Linked DNA regions of Homo sapiens: region 1 is linked to region 2. A link means that fine-mapping ties the variant in region 2 to the plasma level of a protein whose gene starts in the linked region. Region 2 holds a variant in brackets. A gene starts in the other region. All regions are shown on their reverse strands.

Region 1 (11,711 bases), not on the chromosome of region 2:
GGAGAACCCCCACCCCTCTACCTCCCACTCCCCATGGGGATGCCCCTGTGGGGCTGTCACGGTGCAGCTGCTGTATCTGCAGTGCTCTCTGGAGGATGCAGCTGCCCGGTGCTGCAACCTGATGCAGCACGTTCTGGGAACCAGAGGTCCCTGCATCTTGCAAAGGATGGAGGAGTGACAAAGTGAAGGATTGCCCAACTGGGTATTCTTGGTGCTCTCTTTGTCAAGAACTGAAAGGAATTTATAGTACTATGGTTCATTCAACTAGTCTGTTGTATGTGCCTGGCCCTGGGTTAGGGACAGGGCACACCAGACACCAAAGGTGCCTGCATCGGCTTCAAGGCACCCCCACAGGCCTCCTTCGGAGGTCCTCACTGGATCTTGGCCCATGAGGGCAGGCTTAGCATCTCCGTGTTATAAATAAAGAACCTGAGGCTGAGAGGTGAAGCAGTTTCCCCTAGGTCATATGGCCATCAGTGCCCAGTCCATGTGACTCCAAGTGCAGTGCTCCTCCCACCACACACACTGGAGGGAGATGCTCACACCACCCACTGCCCCTCCCCCAAGCAGAGGGAATACTATGGCAACCCTGCCCCAAAGAGCAGCCTTCTTTGGCTTCCTGATCACACGTGTGGATGCTGTAATTTTCCATAGTGGGGACTTTAAAAGCCTCAAATATACTAATAACAGTTGCCATTTTATTGTATGTCTAATTTGTGCCAGGTCCTTTATTTGCTTTCAAACCTTCACAACTGTACCATGAGTCCATCTCACGGAAACAGAAACGCAGTGAGGCTCAGAGAGGATAACTGACTTACCCAAGGGGATACAGCTAGGATTTCAACCTCAGTCTGGGCCACCAAAGCCCACATTTTTTCTAATTTACCATGGGGGCTCGGACTTTTCTTTTCCTTTTCATTTATTGTCCCCTCTGCACTGCCTACCTAACTTTCCTTCTTGTCCTATCCCCTCTTTTCCAGTTGCCATGCCCAGTTGGGCATGGCCTGGCCCATGAACTAAATGAAGGTCTGCAGCAGGGTGTCTCAGCCTTGGGACTATTGACATTTTGGGCCAGATAATTCTCTATTGTGCATGTATGTGGGCGGGGGCTGTGCTGTACACTGTAAGATGTTTCACAGTACCCCTGGCTCTATCCATGAGACGCTAGCAGCAAGCACCTCAGTCTCCAGTGGTGACAACAAAAAATGTCTCCAGACATGGCCAAATGTTCCCCGGGGAAGGAGGGCAAAATAGCCCCAGGTGACAGCCACTGCTGTATAGAAATGAGGGGTCAGGTTCAGGTTGGTTACAGTCCGTCTTCCCCATTAGACTGTAAGTAGGTGGAGGGCAGGAAGAGTGAGTTGATTTATTCACTGCTATGTTATCCATGCCTAGCACAGTGCCTGGCATGTAGCAAGTGCTGCTGAAAGAATGAATGAATGATCTCTGGGAACACGACATATTCTGTGATGAGAACCTGAAGGTCTAGATCCCAGTCCAGATTCTTACCAACCTGCTCTGGGGCAGCAGCCTGGGGCATATCCTTCCCCTCTTTGGGCCTAGGTCCCTTTTGCGATCTCTTAAATGAGGACCATCACAGGCCTGGAAGGCCCTGGGCATCTGTGATCTGGGGACTGCCAGAGACCAGGGAGCTGAGGGAGGCTGTCTCCCAGGTCAGGCATTGCAGATCTGCCATGTCCTGTGTTTCTCCTTCTTACCCTCACCCCTCCAGTCAAATCAATTACAGAAAGACAGGCACCCCCGCCCCCACATACACCAAAATAGTGACCTACACAGAAGAGGTGGCTCCTTTTTTGAGTGTGTATCTTAAGAGGAAAAACATGTAACCTCAAAGGTAACCAAATATCCAAATCGTGATGCCCAGCATCACACACCCCAAATCCACCTATTCATGAGTTTAACAAAAAGCTTCTTTAGGATACACTGTAAGGCCATTGAGAGGGAGAGAAGTCACCTCTCACAGGCCTGGCCAGCCCGCAGGGCCCGCCCTGCCAGCATGCACACACACACACACACACACACACACACACACACACACTCCACCACTTATAAGGAGGCTCTGAGTTTTTAAAAGTAAACTCCACCGTTTCCGTTCTTGCCCTGGATTCAACTTTTGAAAAAAGAAACCGTTTTACCGTTTTCTCTACAAATTCCCCCTCTCTGGTCCTCCTCTCGCCTGCACTCCCGCTCCTTCTCCAGCCCTCCCCTTGTTCTGCCGGCCTCCCAGTGGCCCTTCTTCAACTGCGTCCAGGGGCCCAGACTCCCTCGCAGGGATGGCTGTGTCCTGTTGGATCTGGGGGAAGGGGAGCTGCCACTCCCAAAGTAGCTGTCACAGAAACGGGCCCTTCATCCCATTGAAGGGGCTTCCTTTAAGTTATCAGGGCGGCAGTGCGGCTACCATCAGGACACGAAGCATGGCCACGAGGCCAGGCCGTTGACAGCAGGAGAGGAAGGCTCCTGTTCCCAAGATGTGCTCCTGATCCCCTTTCCCAGGGCAGCTGCTGGCCTGTCCCCTCCCCTGCTCTACTTATAAGCAGACCTTCCTCCATGCCCTGCTTCCTCTCTGACTCTGGGTCCTCTTCCTTGAACTTGCCTTTCCCCAACTCCAGCTTCCACCTCAGCTGCCTTGACTCCCCAGCACTTGGTGCAGTGGCAGCAAGGATGCCCCAGCACCTGCCACCTAGGGCCACAATGCTGAAATTTCTGAGACAGAAACATCATTGGGACCAATATAGTAAAAAAAAAATTAAATAAAAATATATGCAAATATCAAATTTGTATATATTTGCATATATACATTTATATTATAAACATACATACCCTTATAGAGGGCTTCAAAATAAATAACAGAAACAAAAGTTTCCAGAAACAGTACTTACCTTTGCTACATAGGAGGCACTATGAGATTATCTGGTATTTCCTATTTTATTAAGAACCCCGCTAAATTGATCTCACAACCTGCAGTTGGACAAATCTGGTGCTAGACATCCCTGCAGCAGCAGAGACAGACTCAAAGTGGGACTCTAGGCAGGGTCTCATGGGCTTCCTTTGGCTCAGCTGAGGTCCTCCTAAGGGCCCAATAAGAAGGGTCTTGGGAGGAACCCAGTTCTAGAAGGAATCATTAAAAAGAAATTCACTGGCTGGGCATGGTGGCTCACGCCTGAATCCTAGCATTTTGGGAGGCTGAGGCAGGCGATCACCTGAGGTCAGAAGTTCGAGACCAGCCTGGCCAACATGGTGAAATCTCGTCTGTACTACAAATACAAAAATTAGCCGGGCGTGGTGGTACACAAGTAACCCCAGCTACTTGGGAGGCTGAGGCACAAGAATCACTTGAACCTGGGAGGCGGAGGTTGCAGTGAGCCAACATTGGGCCACTGCACTCTAGCCTGGATAACAGAGCAAGACTCCCATCTTAAAAAAAAAAAAAAAATTCACACCAAAAGTTAGGACACACAGTCTCTTATCAAGAGAAAACATTTGAAATTTTTGCTATCCATAACTTGGGGTTTGTGACCCACAAGGGGGCTTAGGAGCTGTTAGAGGAGAGGAATTAAAGTTTGTGGTGCTTGCTGAGAGCTGGACAAGGCACCCACTTTATGTCTTTTAATCTTCACAAAAATCTCTTATCGGAGGATTTTCTCCCCTTTTTAGAGAAGAGGAAATGAAGCCTCTGGGAGGCTCAGTACCCTTATCAAAGCCATGTAGCCAGCGAGTGGCTGAGCTGGAATTTGAATCCCAGTCTTCCTTGCATGCAGGCTGTCCACCCTCCTGGCTCTTGCCGACTGTCTCAGGAGGTGAGCTCTCTCTTGGAGCTCCCTCTCTAATTGGGGAGGGGGCATAAGAGGAGGAGAACGCTCTGCCTTGGCATGCAGGGGTGAGTGGCTGCCTGGGATTGGGCGTGTGGGTGTGAGAGAGATGGGGAACAGGGGCAAGAGGTGTGCCTGGGTGTGTGGAGGGCTTCCGAACATTAAACAAAATATTCCCTTTTAAGTATGATTGTCAGTGAATATTCTAGAAAAAGAAAAACATTCATTTACTACTAGAATTAAGAATGATAATAGTAATATTAATAATATGAAACAGTTACTGAGTACTTGCCCAGTGCCAGGCACTACGCTAAGCCCTTTGCTTGGGTCATCTCATATCTGCTGTTTATTGAGTACCCGCTGTGGGCCAGCATTGAGCACAGAGCCTGGCACCTAGGTGGCGCTCAGCAGATATTGGAGAATGAATGAAAATACCAGGCACAGCACTAGAAACTACACGTAAGAATATCTAAATTAAACACAGCTCAAGGTAACCTGTGGAATTCCAGCATCTCTCCAAGAGATATCTTCTTCCTTTGGACAATTCCTTCTTCTGAAACTTTTTATACTGGGGAGATCTACTATTCTGCAATCTTTCTTTCAGGTTAGAACCTCTCCTCCCCACTGCCGCTCAATGCTTCCTCCCCCAACGAGCTTCAGGGTTTTCTTCCCCATTGCCTTTCCATTTCCTGCAGTTTCTCCCTGGAGCCTGTGATTGACAAGCCAACACTCCTAAACCGTATCTTCATAGTGCCTCCAAACCCACCTTGCCCAGGGTGCATGAGCAACCTGATTGCTCCTTGTCCATGGCAACCCAGGACAAGAAAGAGAGATAAGGATTAGAACCCAAGAATTCTGGACTCTTAAATCAGGACGAGGGACCGACTATGGCCTCAGAAAACCTGGATTCTAGTTCTGCCCTTGACCCTAAGTCACAGTTCAACCTTCAGAAATTCATTGCACCTTTCTGGGTCCACTTGCCCTCCTCTTCAGACGAGGTGGGTGAATTTTCAAGGTCCAGAGTCCCCTCTAAACTGTCAGACACCCACCCACTGCAGCACCCAGGACCCCAAAACACCGTGCTAACCCAATTCAGCTTTGTATTTTCCTCCTGGCAGCCAGCCCCACAGAACCAGAATTTACACATCAGTCAACATGCTGGAACTCCAGCTTCTTCATGGTGAAACCCTAGTAGGATCCTGTCAGAACCCAGCTCATGACTGAAAGGAGGATAATGATGGAAAAGTTTGGGTTGGATCCTGTCTCACAACCAGAGACAAGCCCCCACCCCCGCAGCTTGCTCTGCCCAGAGTGTGGTTCAGTTGACATACTGACAGCCTCCAACCCAGCCCCAGGGTTGGAAAGGGCTCCTGCTCCACCAGCATTGGCTTCGTTTGAAGAGGAACCCACAGACGGAAAAACCGCTCGTGGTCGTGTGTCCTCAACTCCCCTCCCCTTTCTTCCTTGAGAAATGCCCCTTCTTGGTTGGACACCCGTGTGTTCAGGGCACTGCTCTCCTCTCCCCTGCTGGCAGTTCAGTAGCTCTGTCCCAGGTTCTGCCACTCTCCCCTGGGCAGACTCTTCAGGCACTCTGGTCCCTGGAGTAAGCCAAGTGGCCAAGGATGGACTATCTAGCCTCGGCTTAGGACCCGCTGTGTCCCTGACATAGTGTCCATATGATTTCATTTATTCTTCCAGACCCCGCGAAGGCCTTTTCCCTCTCAGCTGACAGACGGCAGGCCAAGGCTCAGGAAGGTGAAGCACACCTTCCAGCTCAAAAGTAGCACCTCGGGGATTTGAACCCACATTCCCTTGACTCTGAAGCTGCTACTCTGTCAACCATGGGTCTTTCCAGACCCTAGGATTTAAAATCACCTAGGTGTTTGGAGAAAAGGCTCCCTTGTTCCTTCATCCTGGCGGACTAGGAGACAAGTGCCCCTCCTCACGTGTTCCTTTGCCCCATTCACTGAGTCTGCAACAGCCAAAAAGTTTGCTCAACTCCACCGCGGACGCAGCCGGTGGATGTGCTGCGCCCCCGGCACACATAGCTCTAGGGCGGAGACCAAGGCAGTGCAGCCCCCAGCCCCGGGGCGTGCAGTCTCAGTCCCGTTCCTGGCTCGCCGGGCGCCCTGGGAGAGCCTCGCTCTGGAGGGAAGGAGACAGTTACCTTGAAGAGTTGGACTCCCTTCTCCAAGAACTTCAGTCCCACACACCTGGCGAGGCAGCTGGGGGCTCCTGGGGCCGGGAGGCCCGGGTCTCGCTGCGTAGCGAGGGAGACGCTCTGCGCGGGCGCTGCGCACCCCTCCTCCTGCCGGCGTCCTGTCCGCAGGTCCCCTCGGGCTGTGGCCGCAGCGGCAACTGCTGGGTTGCGGAGTCCTGGCTGGCTGAGGGAATGGACACTGAAAGGTGCCCGGAGACCCTGGCACCCGCGTCAGACGCCGGCCGGCGAGGGTGCTGAGAGAGAGAGACCTTGAGCAGCGCTGCGCGCGTCCTCAGCTCTGCGAGCCCCCTCTGGAGCGGCGGGGAGGTAGGTGGGCGGGCGGGCGGGCATGGCGCGCTGTGACACATACATAGGGACGGGCGGGGGAGGGGAGGGCCCGTGAGGGGTGGGGGCGGGAGGGGGCGAGCGCAAAGGGAAACCCCACCCCCAGGGACCGAGGGGCGGCCGACAGGGGGAGGGGAAGGCAGAGGCGTCTGGAGCGCGCTGGACCCTGGCTCCGGACCGGCGCGCCGATGGGGAAGCCGGCCTGCGCTCAGGGCGGGAGAGGAGCGCTCCCCGGGGCGGCGCGGACCCGGCAGCTCCGGGGCTGGCGGGAGGAAGGCGGCGCGAGAAGGGCTGGAGGGCCCGCATCTGCATTGCGGTCGGCAGCTCCGCAGTCGGAGGGGCCCAGGAGGGCTGCACCCTCAGAGAATCCCCAAGTGCCCGGACTCTGAGGCCGCCGCGGCGGGACAGGGCTCCCGGGCGCCCGGCGGGGTTCTGCAGCTGAGGCTGGCCACGACGCGATCTAAGGAGGGTGCAGCCCGCTACTGTCGGCCACGATTTGGAACGACCCTCACCGAGGAGCTGGCTGAAAGTTTTTTTGGGGGTGGCGTACACCGGGATGGCAGGGGATGGTGGAGAGGGGGAGGTAAGGCGTCAGCGGGGAGGCTCACGGGGAGCTGCGAGTCTCTGGGTCTTCAAATTCCCCGGGAGAGACCAAGGACATCTCATATGAAGCAGGAATTCTCCAGTGTCTCTACAGTACTCTTTAATACCGTTTTCAGGAAAAGGAGAAAAAGAACTAGCAGCTTTTGAATCCCTCCTATGAGCCCGTTGTGTAACATACATTAACATTTCATTTAATTTTTCCAAAGAGCCCAACAAGGTAAATATGGCAACTTCCCACCTGCCCCTAACCAAAGATGTGAAAACTGAGGCTCAGAAAGTGGTGGAGATCCCTCTTGAAGGTGGGACTGAGTTCGAGTCCCAGGTCTTGTGCTCTCTGCTACACAGGCTGCTGGTTGAGCCACAGCACCTTCGGAGGACTCAAGCTGGCTGGTGACCTTCAGAGTTCTTGTGGAGGAAGCTGGTGGTGCTTCACACCAGGATGTGGTGGCCACAGTCAGGATGGTGGTGGAAGCTTCCTGACCCTCTCATTGGGCAAGAAGAGGAAGAAGTGGAATCTTTCGGGACTCCCCACTACAGAGATAATAGACCACACTTTAATCAGTTCCTTGATGAAAAGGAACTGAAGTGCCTCGGTTTCCCCAGGGCGACTCCACTGGAATTATGTGGTTATTTTACTGGCCATCTCTGCCTGGGGGCGGGACTGGCCCTGGCCCAGCACATGCTCTGTGAGCCGCCTGTCTCTCCCCTGTCCAGGGCAGTGAAGCCCCGTCGGAGGGAGCATAGTGCCCACTCTATCCACCCACCTCTCAGAGCAATGGCTAAAGTGTTCCAGTGGTTGGCCATTCTTGATTTCACCCTTTTTCTACCTGAGCGTATTGAGTCAGGTCTGTAAGTCTTGAAGCATTTAGGACACAGACAAAATGCTGGTGACCGAAGCCCCTTAGGGGGTGATAGTGGCTTCTCTCACAGATAAAGAAATGAGATGAGGCCGGGCGCAGTGGCTCACGCCTGTAATCCCAGCACTTTGGGAGGCCGAGGCGGGCGGATCACGAGGTCAGGAGATGGAGACCATCCTGGCTAACACGGTGAAACCCCATCTCTACTAAAAATACAAAAAAATTAGCCGGGCGTGGCGGCGGGCGCCTGTAGTCCCAGCTACTCAGGAGGCTGAGGCAGGAGAATGGCGTGAACCCGGGAGGCGGAGCTTGCAGTGAGCTGAGACGGCGCCACTGCACTCCAGGCTGGGCGACAGAGCAAGACTCCGTCTCAAAAAAAAAAAAAGAGATGAAATCTTAATAGTTACTGGCCTCAATGCCTGGAACAGGGAGAAATGACCCTCTGGGAAAAAAACAGTCCCTGAAATTCCAACGAGGTCATGGATTCTCATGCCTGTGTTTACCTGATGCCTTGTGGGAGAACAAATTGCTCTCATTTGTAAAATGGGTTCATGTCAACATTCATCCTAGGGCAGGTGGGGTTAATGAAGAACAAGTCAAGGGCAAATATTAATTAGGCGATTTATCTTTGTATTGAAGGGAACAAATGTTTATTGATCATCTGGTTTTGTAATGAGTCTAAGAAACATATATTGGGCACCTATTATGTGTCAGATGCTGCTTGGTACAGCAGCCTCTCAGATGGATGCCATTCCCATTTACACACTAAGAAACCAAGACTCAGAGGCCATCAAGGTAGTGAATGGGATTGGAGTACAGGCTGGTATGAATTCACACTCCCTAGCCCTAAAGGATACAAAAAACCCAGGATAATGGCAACGCATTTGGACACTTTAAAGACAGTATTCAGAGAGTCAAAGGACATGCGTGTCAGAAGGCCCTTGGTGGCATACACAGGCTCTTCCTGTCCAACTCAGGAGCTCTGTTCCAGTGTAATATTTCTGAAGCTGGTCATCTCCTCTTCTGCTAGAATACTTTACAGTTGCCTAATGCCTTTTCCAGGCTGCCCGATGCAGTCTGCTGTAAACTGGCAATTTCTAACCTCTTGCTGCTCAGAGTATGTTCTATAGACTGGCAGTGTCACCTGGAAGCTTATTCAAAATGCAGAATGCCAGGTTCCCCAGACCTACTGACTCACAATCTGCATTTTAACAAGATCCCTCCCGTGTTGTATATGCCTGCTGAAGTTTGAGAAGCACTGTGCTGACATCATTCAGCAGGTTCTACTCATTCAATCACAAATCACAGAATAAGAGAATCTCAGAGCTGGGAAGAGCTCTTGGAGAACTTTAAGGACACCCCTCCATAGAGTATGTCAGTCCTGTCCATGATGTTTCCCTCAAGTAGGACATCAGACTCTGCTTGGATGTGGCCATGAGTTTGACTCCCTTCTGAGGCCACATCCATTTTTTTCACGTGGTTCTTGTATTTAGGCAGCTTTCAGCTTTCACAGAAGCTCATGCCCAATACTGTGGATTCAGCAGTGAACAAGACAGGCCCATTTCCATCCCCCCAACCCTAACCTGTCCCAGGACCTCCTGCCACGTGATAAACCTTTCTGTTTGGAATCAGTGATCTCAAGTCTCTCCCTTCTCCCTTTTGGATTGGGTCCAGAGGAGAGCTCACCTCAATAACCTGGGTCCTGTGCTTCTGGTAATGCAGCCAACATTTATGTGCTTTTATGACAGCCTCATCATGACTCATTTGGAGCCTGCAGCCAGCTCAGACTTCCTTTTCACAGTGCTTCTGCCACCTAGCATCTCCTTTGGCTTATCCTGGTACAATGGGTTTTTCCAATCCAAGTGTGGGGCTTCATTTTTGCTTCTTTTAAACATTACACTAACTAATTCAGTTTACTACTTCAGATCATCTTGGATTCTGACTCTATTATTCTGTGTGTTTGCCATTCCTCTTAGCAGCAGACATTCTACAAAGCTAACTAGTGTGCCACTTCTATGTTTTCATTCAGGCTGCTCATAAAAATATTGCCTGGGACGGAGATTAGGGCTGAGTTCTAGAGCAGAGCACTAGAGACAGCCCCCCTGGAATGAACGACATAATCCGATATTCCAGTTATAATGGCTGTGTAACAAATCACCTCAAAACTGAGTGTCTTAAAACAATAGTTATTTAATATCTCTCATGGTTTCTATGGATCGGGAATTTGGGAGAAACTTCGCCAGGCAGTTCTGGCCTGGACTAGCTCTTGAAGTTGTAGTCAGATGTCAGTTACAGCTGCAGTTAGCTGAAAGCTTGACTGGGGCTTGAGGATCCATGTCCAAGGTGGGTCGCTCACGTGATTGGTGAATTGGTGCTGGCTGCTGGCCAGTGACCTCATTTCATCTCCATAGGGCCTCCCGATGGAGCTGCTTGAGTGTCCTCATGACATGGCAGCTGGCTTCCACCACAGTGAGTGACACAGGGAGTGCAGTGCTTCTGTGTCATAGCTTTGGAAGTCCCACACAGGGCCAGCCCTGAACTAGTGTGGGAGGGTCATACAGGATGTGAATACCAGGGGATGGGGATCACTGGGGGCATCTTGGAGGCTGGCTTCTACACTCCATTAAACTAACTCATAGAGCATGGCCAGTCCCCCCATCCATCTGACTGTATTACCATGGAGTGCTTATTTCTGTCCCATACATGGGGACACCATGAAGGTACCTTGCTAAGTCCCAATATAAGGTGCTTGCAGAATTCCTCTGAAGCATTCATTCCAAACTCTTTTACAAGTGAGTGGCCCAATTCTGCTCTCTAGAGCAACACAGTCTGCCCCCATTTCAACAGGGGCAGCCTCCAGTTAGTGCAGGAGGGTTCTCACATCACCCTTCATGTCTCTCCTCACAGGGTCTTTGACTGTTTCCCAAGGGAGTGTTCTTCTGGAGTTTGCTTCTGGATTCCTCACTCTCTGCGAACCTTGTTTGTGGATGCCCCTCAAAAATGCAATGCCCGGCATTAGATGCACAAGCCCAGGTGTGGACTGATTAGAGGGGAGCCAGGACAACTCTTTTCTCTAACCATTTGGATATTCTGCTCCTACCGGTATGGCCAAACATCGTTGAGTTTCAGAACTACATCTCACTGTTGCTTGATATTTAATCTTGCAGGCAATTAAAATGAAGACTGTTTCCATGCGGGCCCCCGTGAAAGGGATTCCTGTGTATCTCAAGCAACAAAGAGAGCTGTGGAGCAAGGAGATTCCCTGTGTAATCGGGAGCACTGGATGTGAATCCCAGGTCTGGCATGGGAACCTTGGGTGAGTTTCTTAACCTCTCTGGATTTTGGTTTCACATCTGTAAAATGGAGCTATCTTATGGAATTGTTGTGAGAATTAAAATAAGATATGGAATGTCAGCCCCTAGTAACTGATCTGGCTCAAAGTGCAAGGATGGTTAATTTTCTTCCTTCCCCCTAGCCCCCACAATTTGGTGTGCCTGAGTAAGTACATTCTCTCCTGTGTGCTGTTTTCTGTGTTTGTAAAAGAAGCTAAAAATACCCACCTCATAGGAGTGTGGCAACAATGAATACTATATGTAATATGTGTAGAGAACGTTGTGATCCTTTTTGGAAGCAAAGGGCCATAGAAACATGATATAGAAAAGCCTTCTTATAGCAGAACTGGGCCAGGGAGTGGAGTCTAGTGAGAACTAGTGGAACACTTGAAAAGTGCTGTTTTATTACTTTAACACTGTACTAGTGGCAAAGTAGGAGGGAAATGTTATAATAAAGAACATGGAGACAGTTAATGAAACACTCACAAGCCTCCACGGGTCTGTGTGGAATAATGACATACAGTAACGGGAAAGTGCTGTGTCA
Region 2 (11,514 bases):
GATTACAGGCGTGAACCACCGTGCCCGCGGCTTCTTTCTTCTTCCACTCAACATTATCTTTGAGAGATAAGTCCATGTTGTGGCAAATGGATCTAGGGTATGTATTCCCATGGTTACACGGTATTCCATTGTGTGATATGCCCCAAGGTATGTATCCTTTCTCCTGCGATGGGCATTTGGGTTGTTTCTTTTGAAAAGCCTTACAAATAGGGTGGCCTTACAAATAGGGTGACTATCCTTACACAAGGCTCCTGGCATCTATTGCACCCATCTCTCTCAGATACAGATAGGGGCGGAAGTTGGGTCTCTGGGAAGTAAAGTGCCAAACTGTTTTTCAAAGTGGTTCAACCCCTCTGCCTCCTTCAGAGGTGTATGAGATTTTCTGTGGCTCCACATTTCACCACATCTGGTAGTGTCGGATTTTGAAAATTTCGACATTTCTAGGGGTAGAGGGAAAGGTGTGGAGCGGTTTTGCGCTACTAGTCTTGTTTGTTTTTAGAGATGGAGTCTGACTCTTGTCGCCCACTCTGGACTGCAGTGTTGCAATCTTGGCTCACTGCAACCTTTGCCTACCGGGTTCAGGCAATTCTCCTACCTCGGCCTCGTAACTGGGATTACAGGCATGTGCCACCATGCCGGCTATGTTTGTATTTTTAGTAGAGACGGGGTTTTGCCATGTTGGCCAGGCTGGTCTTGAACTACTGACCTCAGGTGATCCTTCCACCTCCGCCTGCCAAAGTGCTGGTATTGCAGGCGTGAGCCACTGCACCAGGCCTTACATTGTTTTAATGTTTGTTCTCCTTCTGAGGATGAGCACCTTTTCACACCTTTATTGCCATTTAGAGTTCCTCTTTTCTGAAGTGCTTGCTTGAAGTGGCTCATGCCTGCAATCCCCGAAATTTGGGAGGCCAAGGCCAGAGGACGCCTTGAGCCCAGGAGTTTGAGACCAGCCTGGGCAAGACCCTGTTTCTAAAAAAATTTAAAAATTAGCCAGGCATAGTAGCCCATACTTATGGTCTTAGTTACTTGGGAGGCTGAGGTGGGAGGATGGCTTAGGCCAGGGAGGTTGAGGCTGCAGTGAGCTAGGATTCTGCCACTCTACTCCAGCCTGGGTAACAGAGTGAGACCCTGTTTCAAATAAATAAATCAATTGGCCAGATGCAGTGGCTCATGCCTGTAATCCAAGCACTTTGGGAGGCCAAGGTGGGCCAATTGCCTGAGCTCAGGAGTTTGAGAACAACCTGGTCAACATGGCGAAACCCCGTCTCTACTAAAAATACAAAGATTAACCGGGTGTGGTGGCATGTGCCTGTAATTCTAGCTATTCGGGACACTGAGGCAGCAGAATCGCTTGAACCTGGGAGGTGGAGGTTGCAATGAGCCAAGATTGCACCACTTCATTCCGGCTTGGGTGACAGAGTGAGACTGTCTCCAAAAAATAAAATAAAATAAATTAAATTAATTAATTAAGTGTCTACTTGAGTTTGCCAATTTTTCTTCTGGGGTTTGCTGTTTGTTTTTAAGGAGTTATTTATGTGTGCAGGATATGTTCAGATTCATTGCATTATGTGTTACAAATTTCTTCTCCTACTCTGTAACCATTTTCTAATGGTTATCTTTTTTTTAATAAAAAATCTCAAACATACACAAAAGTAGAGAGAATCGTATAATGAATTCCCATAGACTTATTGCCAGCTTTAATAATTGTCAATTCGTGCTAATCTTATTCCCTCTCTACCTGAACCTACTTCTTCTTTATTGGATTGCTTTTAACACTTTCCAGACGTCTTATTATTTCACCTCCCAAATTTGTAGGAAGTACATATCGCTAAGTAATAATGACCTTTTAAAATATAGATCTAAATATATAGCCACATTATCATTCTAAGATATCTTTTGGTGAATGTTAATTCTTTTTTTTTTTTTTTTTTTTTTGAGACGGAGTCTCACTCTGTCGCCCAGGCTGGAGTGCAGTGGCGCTATATCTCCGCTCACTGCAAGCTCCGCCTCCTGGGTTCACGCCATTCTCCTGCCTCAGCCTCCCGAGTAGCTGGGACTACAGGCGCCCGCCACCACGCCTGGCTAATTTTTTTGTGTATTTTTAGTAGAGACAGGGTTTCACCGTGTTAGCCAGGATGGTCTTGATCTCCTGACCTTGTGATCTGCCCACCTCGGCCTCCCAAAGTGCTGGGATTACAGGCTTGAGCCACCGCGCCCGGCCATTAATTCTTTTTTTTGGGAGACAGAGTCTCGCTCTGTCACCCAGGCTGGAGTGCAGTGGCGTGATCTCGGCTCACTGTAGCCTCGACCTCCAGGGCTCAAGTGATCTTCCCACCTCAGCCCCCCAAGTAGCTCAGACTACAGGTGTGTGCCACCACGCTCGGCTAATTTTTAATTTTTTTTGTAGAGAGAGTGTCTCTCTATGTTGCTCAGGCCGGTCTACACCTCCTGACCTCAAGCAATCCTCCTGCCTTGGCCCCACAAAGTGCTGGGATTACAGGGATGAGCCACTGTGGCAAGTTCTTAATTTTTTTTTTTTTCCCCTTGAGACAGAGTCTTGCTCTGTCCTTGTTGCCCAGGCTGGAGTGCAGTGGCCCAATCAAATCATGACTCACCATAGCCTCAACCTCCTGGGCTCAGGTGATCCTCCTATCTCAGCCTCCCAAGTAGCTGAAACTACAGGCATGTACCACCACACTCGGCTGATGTGTTTGTTTGTTTGTTTGTTTGTTTGTTTTCGTAGACAAGGTCTCGCTATGTTGCCCGGACTGGTCTTGATCTCCTGGCCACAATTGAGGTTCCTGATTCAGCCCCCCAAAGTGCTGGGATTATAGGCATGAGCCACCATGCCTGGCCATGACTCTATTTATGTTATGGATGAACCACAATTGATGAAACCATCAAGCATTACTTGGATTCTACTTAAAAAGCCTTCAAAATGTTAGCTGTTGTGGTTAAAGTGGGTGCCCACAGCCAGAATAAGGGCCACATTCCAGCCAATAGGAAGAGCAGAAAAGGAGAGGGCATACTCTGACTTTAGGGACACAATCTGGAAGTTGCCCGCATCATTTCTTCCCAAGTTCCGTTTGCCAGAAAACAGATACATGGCCCCAACAGGCTCCAAAGAGGATGAGAGACATCTTCTTGGCTAGGGAATCTCATGCCCAACTACAAATTCTGTTTCAGTAGAGGAAGGGGTGGCTGGGCAAGGGGGTTCACACCTGTAATCCCAGCACCTTAGGAGGCCAAGGCAGGTGGATTGCCTGAGCTCAGGAGTTTGAGACCAGCCTGGGCAAGGTGGTGAAACACTATCTCTACAAAAAAATTTAAAAATTAGCTGGCATGGCGGTGCCTGCCAGTAGTCCCTGCTACTTGCAGAGCTGAGGTGGGAAAATTATTTGAGCCTGGGAGGTTGAGGCTGCAGTGAGCTATGTTCCTGCTAGTACACTACAGCCTCAGTGACAGAGTGAGATCACATCTCTAAAAAAATAAAAATAAAAATTAGGATGTCGGGAGTGGTGGCTCACGCCTGTAATCCCAACACTTTGGGAGGCCGAGGCTGGCAAATCACCTGAGGTCAGGAATTAGAGACCAGCCTGACCAATATGATGAAACCCCGTCTCTACTAAAAATACAAAAATTAGCTGGGCATGGTGGTGCATGCCTGTAATCCCAGCTACTCAGGAGGCTGAAGCAGGAGAATCGCTTGAACCCAGGAGGCAGAAGTTGCAGTGAGCCAAGGTTGCACCATTGCACTCCAGCCTGGGCAACAAGAGCAAAACTTCATCTCAAAAAAAAAAAAAAAACAAAAAAAAAAAACAGACGTGGTGGCTCACACCTATAGAAGAAGAAGGGGAGAAAAAAATATTGGTGAGGCCAGGTGCAGTGACTCATACCTGTAATTCCAGGGCTTTGGGAGAATGAGGTGGGAGGATCGCTTGAGGCCAGGAGTTCAAGACCAGCCCAGGCAACATGGCAAAACATCATCTCTATGAAAAATATAAAAATTAGCTGGGCATGGTGATGCGCACCTATAGTCCCAGCTACTTGGGAGGCTAAAGTGGGAGGATCGCTTGAGCCCAATAAGTTGAGGCTGTAGTGAGCCATGATTGCACCACTGCACTCCAGCCTGCGTAACAGAGCAAGACCCTTTCTCCAATAAAAAGATAAGTAAAAATAGTTCATTCCTTTTTATTGCTGAGTAGTATCCCACCGTGTGGATCTCAAAAAAATGGATAAACAACTTGTTTATCCATTCATCCAGTGAAGAACCATTCGGTTGTTTCCAGTTTGGGGCAATTATGAACAAAGCCACTATTAATATATGGTACTGGTTTTTGTATAAACTCACGTTTTCACTTCTCTTTGGTAAATACCTAGGAGTGGGAGTGTTGGGTTGTATGGTGTGTTTATGTTTAAATTTCTTAGAAATTGCCAAACTTCCCCCAGTGTCTGATGCAAATGACAGAAGCCTTCACAGAAGGTCCCAGATCACTTTAGCAGTGGAGCTGAGGTGTTTGCTCCCCAAGGCAGGAGTAGGATCTGATCTGTGTAGCTCAGGGACTGATTTCTTGGACCTCCTAGAGATTCAGTGGGTTCCCTAATGTCATTGAACACATCACACATCCCCTTCTTTTTTTTTTTTTTTTTTTGAGATGGAGTCTCACTCTGTTGCCTAGGCTGGAGTGCAGTGGCGCAATCTCGGCTCACTGCAAGCTCCGCCTCCTGGGTTCACGCCATTCTCCTGCCTCAGCCTCCCGAGTAGCTGGGACTACAGGCACCCACCACCATGCCTGGCTAATATTTTTGTATTTTTAGTAGAGACAGGGTTTCACCGTGTTAGCCAGGATAGTCTGGATCTCCTGACCTTGTGATCTGCCCACCTCAGCCTCCCAAAGTGCTGGGATTACAGGCGTGAGCCACCGCCCCCAGCCTCTTTTTTTTCTTTTCTTTTCTTTCTTTTTGTCTCTCTTTCTTTCTTCTTTCTTTTCTTTCCTTCTTTCTTTCTCTCTCTCTCCCTCCCTTCCTTCTTCCTTCCTTTTTTCTTTCTCTTGAAACAGGGTCTCCTTCTGTCACCCAGGCTGGAGTGCAGTAGTGCCACGATAGCTCACTGCAACCTCCAATCCCTGGGTTCAGGCAACCTTCCTGCTTCAGACTCCTGAGTAGCTGGGACCACAAGTGTGCTCCACCACGCCTAGCTAATTTAAAACAATTTTGGGGGCCAGGCATGGTGGCTGATGCCTGTAATCTCAGAACTTTAGGAGGCTGAGGTGGGAGGATCGCTTGAGGCCAGGAGTGTGAGAACAGCCTGGCCAACATGGCGAAACCCTGTCCCTACTAAAAAAATACAAAAATTAGCCAGGTGTGGTGGCTCATGCCTGTAATCCCAGCTACTTGGGAGGCTGAGGCAGGAGAATCGCTTGAATCTGGGACGGGGAGGCTGCAATGAGCCGAGATCGAGCCACTGCACTCCAGCCTGGGCGGCAGAGAGAGACTCCATCTCAAAAAAAAAAAAAAAAAAAAAAAAAAAATTTGGGCCAGGCAGAGTGGCTCACGCCTGTAATCTCAGCACTTTGTGAGGCTGAGGCAGGCGGATCAGTTGAGGTCAGGAGTTCGAGATCAGCCTGACCAACATGGTGAAAGCCCATCTGTATGAAAAATAGAAAAATTAGGCCAGGCACAGTTGCTCACGCCTCTAATTCCAGCACTTTGGGGGGCTGAGGAGGGTGGATCACCAGAGGTCAGGACTTTGAGAACAACCTGACCAACATGGTGAAAGCCCACCTGTACTAAAAATACAAAAAACTATCCGGGCGTGGTGGTGGGTGCCTGTAATCCCAGCTACTCAGGAGGCTGAGGCATGAAAATTGCTTGAACCCAGGAGGCGGAGGTTGCAGTGAGCTGAGATCGTGCCACTGCACTCCAGCCTGGGTAACAGAATGAGACTCTGTCTCAAAAAAAAGAACAATTTTTGTAAATATGGTATCTTGCTATGTTTCTCAGGCTGATCTTGAACTTCTGGCCTCAAGAGATCCTCTCACCTTAGTCCCCTAAGGCACTGAGATGACAGGTGTGAGCTACTGCAGAATGTTTAAAGGAAACAACCGACTATTTTCCAAAGCGGTTGCTCTATTTTTCATTTCCACCGGCAGTGTCTGAGATTTCCAACTGCTCCACATTTCTGCTGACACTCGATAGGGTCAGTCTTTTTAATTTTAGTCATTTAAGTGGGCGTGCAGTGACATTTCACTGAGGTTTCGTTTATATTTCCCTAATGACTAATAGTGCTGAGCACTTTTTCACAGGCTTCCTGGCCATTCATGTCTCTTCTTCTTCTTCTTCTTTTTTTTTTTTTGAGATGGAGTCTCACTTTTGTCGTCCAGGCTGGAGTGCAATGGCTTGATCTCAGCTCACTACAACCTTTGCCTCCAAGGTTCAGGTGATTCTCCTGCCTCAGCCTCCCAAGCAGCTGGGATTACAGATGCCTGCCACCGTGCCTGGCTAATTTTTGTATTTTTAGTAGAGATGGGGTTTCACCATATTGGCCAGGCTGGTCTTGAACTCCTGACCTCAGGTGATCTGCCCGCCTTGGCCTTCCAAAGTGTTGGGATTACAGGCGTGAGCCACCACGCTGGCTTTTTTTTTTTTTTTTTGATGGAGTCTTGCTCTGTTGCCCAGGCTGGAGTGCAGCGGTGCGATCTCGGCTTACTGAAACCTCTGTCTCCTGGGTTCAAGGGATTCTCCTGCTTCAGCCTCCTGAGTAGATGGAATTATAGGAAACTGCCACCACGCCCAGATAATTTTTGTGTTTTTAACAGAGATGTGGTTTCACCATATTTGCTGGGCTGGTCTCGAACTCCTTACCTCAGGTGATCCGCCCACCTTGGCCTCCTAAAGTGCTGGGATTACAGGAGTGAGCCACCACGCCCGGCCTTCACGTCTCATCTTTAGTGAAGTGTCTGTTCAAATGTTTTGGTCACTTAAAAATTAGGCTATTTGTCTGATTTTTAAATTAAATTAATTAATTTTTTTCTTTTTTGAGACAGGGTCTCACTCTGTGGCCCAGGCTGGACTGCTGTGGCACAATCAAAGCTCACTGTAGCTTCTGCCTCCCCAGGCTCAGGTGATCCTCCCACCTCAGCCTCCCTAGTAGCTAGGACTACAGGTAGGTGCCACCATGCTGGGCTAATTTTTGTATTTTTTGTAGAGCTGGGATTTTGCCCTGTTGCTCAGGCTGGTCTCAAACTTCTGGGCTCAAGCAATTCACCTGCCTCAGCTTCCCAAAGTGCTGGGATTTACAAGCTTGAGCCATCACGCCTGGCTCCCAGGCTGGTCTTGAAATCCTGAGGTCAAGTAATATGCCTGCCTTGGTGTCCCAAAGTGTTGGCATGACAGGCGTGAGCCACCATGCCCAGCCTATTTTTAAAAATATAATTAGAGCTGGGCACGGTGGCTCACGCCTGTAATCCCAGCACTTTGCGAGGCGGAGGCAGGTGGATCACCTGAGGTTGCGAGTTCGAGACCAGCCTGACCAACATGGAGAAACCCCATCTCTACTAAAAATACAAAATTAGCCAAGCATGGTGGCGTATGCCTGTAATCCCAGCTACTCGGCAGGCTGAGGCAGGAGAATTGCTTGAACCCGGGAGGTGGAGGTTGCAGTGAGCGGAGATCGCGCCACTGCACTCCAGCCTGGGCGACAAGAGCAAAACTCCATCTCAAAAAAAAAAAAAAGAATTAGAGACAGGGTCTCGTTATGTTGCCCAGGCTGGTTTTGAACTCCTGGCCTCAAGCGATCCTTCTGCCTTGGCCTCTATTCATCTGATGTTTTACAAAGCTTCCAGCTGCTTTGAGGAGGACAGGCTGTGGAGGGGCCAGTGTGGAAGCTGGGAGAGTGGGGAGGGACTGTAGCTTCCACAGAAGTGAGCTGGTCACAGGCCAACACACTACCTGGTTTCTGGGAAAGTCAGCGTTGGCTTCCCCAACTCTTGGCCTGCTGCCCAGAGAGGGTGAGACACTCACCTCTTGATCTTGTGTGGAGGCCCTCAGCTCAGCTTCCAGGAGTCTGGCAGTGTCTTGGGGCAGCGCCTTGTTGCTGGGTGCCCTGAATCTCAGCTTCTTCCTTCATCCAAAGAGGGAGGGTTTTTTTGTTTTGTTTTGTTTTGTTTATTTTGAGACGGAGTCTTGCTCTGTTGCCCAGGCTTGAGTGCAGTGGTGCGATCTCGGCTCACTGCAACCTCTGCCTCCCAGGTTCAAGCGATTCTCCTGCCTTAGCCTCCTGAGTAGCTGGGATTACAGATGTGTACCACCACGCCTGGCTAATTTTTGTATTTTTTAGCAGGGACGGGGTTTCACCATGTTGGCCAGGATGGTCTCAAACTCCTGACCTCAAGTGATCCACCCGCCTCAGTCTCCCAAAGTGGTGGGATTACAGGTGTGAGCCACTATGCCTGGCCAAAGAGAGTGTTTTATCCGTCCTCTAGCCCAGAGGCCAGCCCAGACCTGCCACCTGTGGTCTGCATCAGCACAGTTGTATTGGTTGCTAAAATGTTGAAACATTCCACTTCTGGTTAGTAAAGAGCCCACATAGCCCACAGATGTCTGCTACCACCCGAGTCCATTCTTTGGGGACCCCTTGGACTTTCCCACATCTCAGCAACTAAAGGTGGCGCTCTAGGACCCTGATTCCAGCCCCTATGGCCACATCCGTATGACTGGATGGTGCTTGGGGAATATCTTCTGGGGACAGCCCAGGCCTGGCTGAAGTGGGGAGGATGAGACTAGGAGGCTGATGCTGAAGGACTGAGGGAGGATTTTTTTTTTTTTTCTGAGTCAAAGTCTCACTCTTGTCATCCAGGCTGGAGTGCAATGGCATGATCTTGGCTCACTGCAACCTCTGCCTCCCAGGTTCAAGCGATTCTCCTGCCTCAGCCTCCCAAGTAGCTGGTATTACAGGCGCCTGCCACCATGTCTGGCTAGTTTTTGTATTTTTAGTAGAGACAGGGTTTCACCATGTTGGCCAGGCTGGTCTCAAACTCCTGACCTCAGGTGATCCACCCTCCTTGGCCTCCTAAAGTCCCAAAATCCAAAATCACGCCTGGGATTACAGGTGTGAGCCACTGCACCTGGCTGAGGGAGGATTTTTATCAAGCTAAGCTGAGAACTCGAGACTGGACATACTAATTTTTAGCATGGAACATATCCAAGTCACACGGTACCGAAGTATGTTCGCAGCAGTGAATCCATAGGGGTCTGCAGCAACCTCAATCCTTGCCTCCTCAAAAAAGAATTTGACCAAGGGACATAAGGCAGAGTGAGAAACCAAGGTAAGTTTTAGAGCAGGAGTGAAAGTTTATTATTATTATTATTATTATTATTATTATTATTATTATTATTATTATTTTGAGACTGAGTTTCGCTTTTGTTGCCCAGGCTGGAGTGCAATGGCGCAATCTCTGCTCACTGCAACCTCTGCCTCCTGGGTTCAAGCGATTCTCCTGCCTCAGGCTCCTGAGTAGCTGGAATTACAGGCACGCGCCACCACGCCAGGCTAATTTTGTATTTTTTAGTAAAGACCGAGTTTCTCCATATTGGTCAGGCTGGTCTCGAACTGCCGACCTCAGGGGATCCGCCCACCTCGGTCTTCCAAAGTGTTGGATTACAGGCGTGATCCACCGCGCTTGGCCCTTTATTATTATTATCATTATTTTGAGACAGAGTCTTGCTGTGTCGCCCAGGCTGGAGTGCAGTGGCGCGATCTCAGCTCACTGTAACCTCCACCTTCCAGGTTCAAGGTATTGTCTTGCCTCAGCCTTCTGAGTAGCTGGGACTACAGGTGCCCACCACCATGCCCAGGTAATTTTTTGTATTTTTAGTAGAGACCGGGTTTCACCATGTTGGCCAGGATGGTCTCGATCTCCTGACCTCGTGATCCGCCCGCCTCAGCCTCCCAAAGTGCTGGGATTACAGGCATAAGCCACCGTGCCCAGCCTAATTTTTAGTAGAGATGGGGTTTCACCATGCTGGCCGGGCTGGTCTTGAACTCAACCAGGCATTATTCTAATAGACCTCACAATATCCTCACAAATATCCCAGCAGCCTGGCCTCCCTGCTCCAGTCCCTGCCTCCACAGTCTGCTCCCCACCTGCGGCCGGAGGGAACCTGTGAACCCCTGAGTCAGGTCAGGGCCCTCCTGGCTCAGAGCCCTGCTCTGGTCTCTGACTGCCCCCTCGCCCACTCTGCTCCAACACATTGGGTGGCCTGGTGTGCCCGGGAGGACCTACAGGGTCTGTTCCCTCCATGCTCGCTCTAGACACAATGGGAGAGGCTTGGGTTTTTAAGGGAGGGGACTCAGCCAGGCCTGAACAGTGGTGACCGTGGGCTGAGCTGGGACCTGACCCTCCTCCAGGCTCCAAATCTCCTCTCCTCCCTTCCCCCACAGGCCACTGGGCATCTGCCCTGTGACCAGAATCCAGTTTCCCCTTTTTTCTCCTAAGCCCAGGCCCAAGGAGCGGTGGGTGTGACGTGTGGATGGGGGAGGGGGGCTTCCTGCAGCTGTCTCATCCTCCAGCACCCTAACCTCAGGTTCCTCCTTCCCCAGCCCCAGGCTCCAGCTGGGGGCTAGAAGTCCCCGTCTCCTTGGGGTGGCCTCCCTTGGGCCTTGCTCCCAGCCACTTCCTCATTCAGCAGGAGAGCCAGCCACCTGCCTCTCCCCAAGC[C/T]GCCAGCCGTGCCTCTGTGTCTGTGCCACTGCCTTACTCTCACCTTTCTCAGCTTTGCCGCTGTTTTCTCCTTCCCCATCTTTCATCTTTGTTTTTCCCCCTGACTCTTCCCTAGTCAAAAACCTGATTTTGGGTCTTGGGTTCCATTTCCACCTTGATTTGCTGTGCAGCCTTAGGCAAGCGTCTCTACCTCTCTGAACAATGGGGATGATAAGAGCATGTGCCCTAGAAGGGCATTGCGGGGACTGAATGATTTAACGCTTGGGACAGAGTGCCTGCATGTCATTAGTGCCCACATGCTGCTGGCTCTTTTAATATCCTTTAAACAGCACAAGTTTCTGATGATTAAATAATCATCATCATAGCTGATGCTTTTAAAAAGCTGACAAGGGTCAGACCCTGGTCTAGGAACTTTAATTCATTTAATCCCCACAACTCTAAAAAGTAGGTCCCATTTTACTCCCAATTTTACAGATGAAGAAACTGAGGTTGGAGCTGGGTGCGGTGGCTCACACTTGCAATCCTAGCACTTCGGGAGGCCAAGGTGGGTGGATCACCTGAGGTCAGGAGTTTGAGACCAGCTGGCCAACATGGTGAAACCCTGTCTCTACTAAAAAAAAAAGAAAAAAAAATACAAAAAATTAGCCGGGCATGGTGGCAGGCGCCTATAATCCCAGCTACTTGGGAGGCTGAGGCAGGAGAATCACTTGAACCCGGGAGGCAGAGGTTGCAGTGAGCCGAGACCGTGCCATTGCACTCAAGGTTGACCAGCCAGGAAGAGGCAGAGCTGGTTTCA

Which allele goes with the higher level. Positions count from the first base shown, and alleles are read on the strand shown. Strength reflects both the effect of a copy and how common the allele is.
With allele C in place of T in region 2, the plasma level of the protein whose gene starts at base 6,371 in region 1 is lower (weak association).

What was found. PIP is the posterior inclusion probability: the model's chance that the variant is causal. Protein levels are from antibody-based Olink assays in UK Biobank. Linkage for the fine-mapping came from a reference panel and not from the study's own genotypes, which makes the PIPs less certain.
Region 1: it holds the start of ACAN, and the variant in region 2 is fine-mapped to the plasma level of the ACAN protein (UK Biobank, PIP 0.94).

Annotation. Positions count from the first base shown.
Region 1 is chr15:88,798,096-88,809,806 of GRCh38, reverse strand. It overlaps ACAN (aggrecan), which reads right to left and starts at 6,371. Exons shown (of 19, transcript NM_001369268.1): 1 at 5,998-6,371. It overlaps LOC105370960 (a long non-coding RNA gene), which reads left to right and starts at 6,289. Exons shown (of 3, transcript XR_001751648.1): 1 at 6,289-6,357; 2 at 11,003-11,151.
Region 2 is chr19:35,908,534-35,920,047 of GRCh38, reverse strand. No RefSeq gene overlaps it. Among named protein-coding and RNA genes, the nearest start is that of TYROBP, 6.0 kb to the right of the region's middle. RefSeq lists enhancers at 10,237-10,346, 10,447-10,496, 10,647-10,776. The variant C/T (reference allele first, on the strand shown) is at 10,719.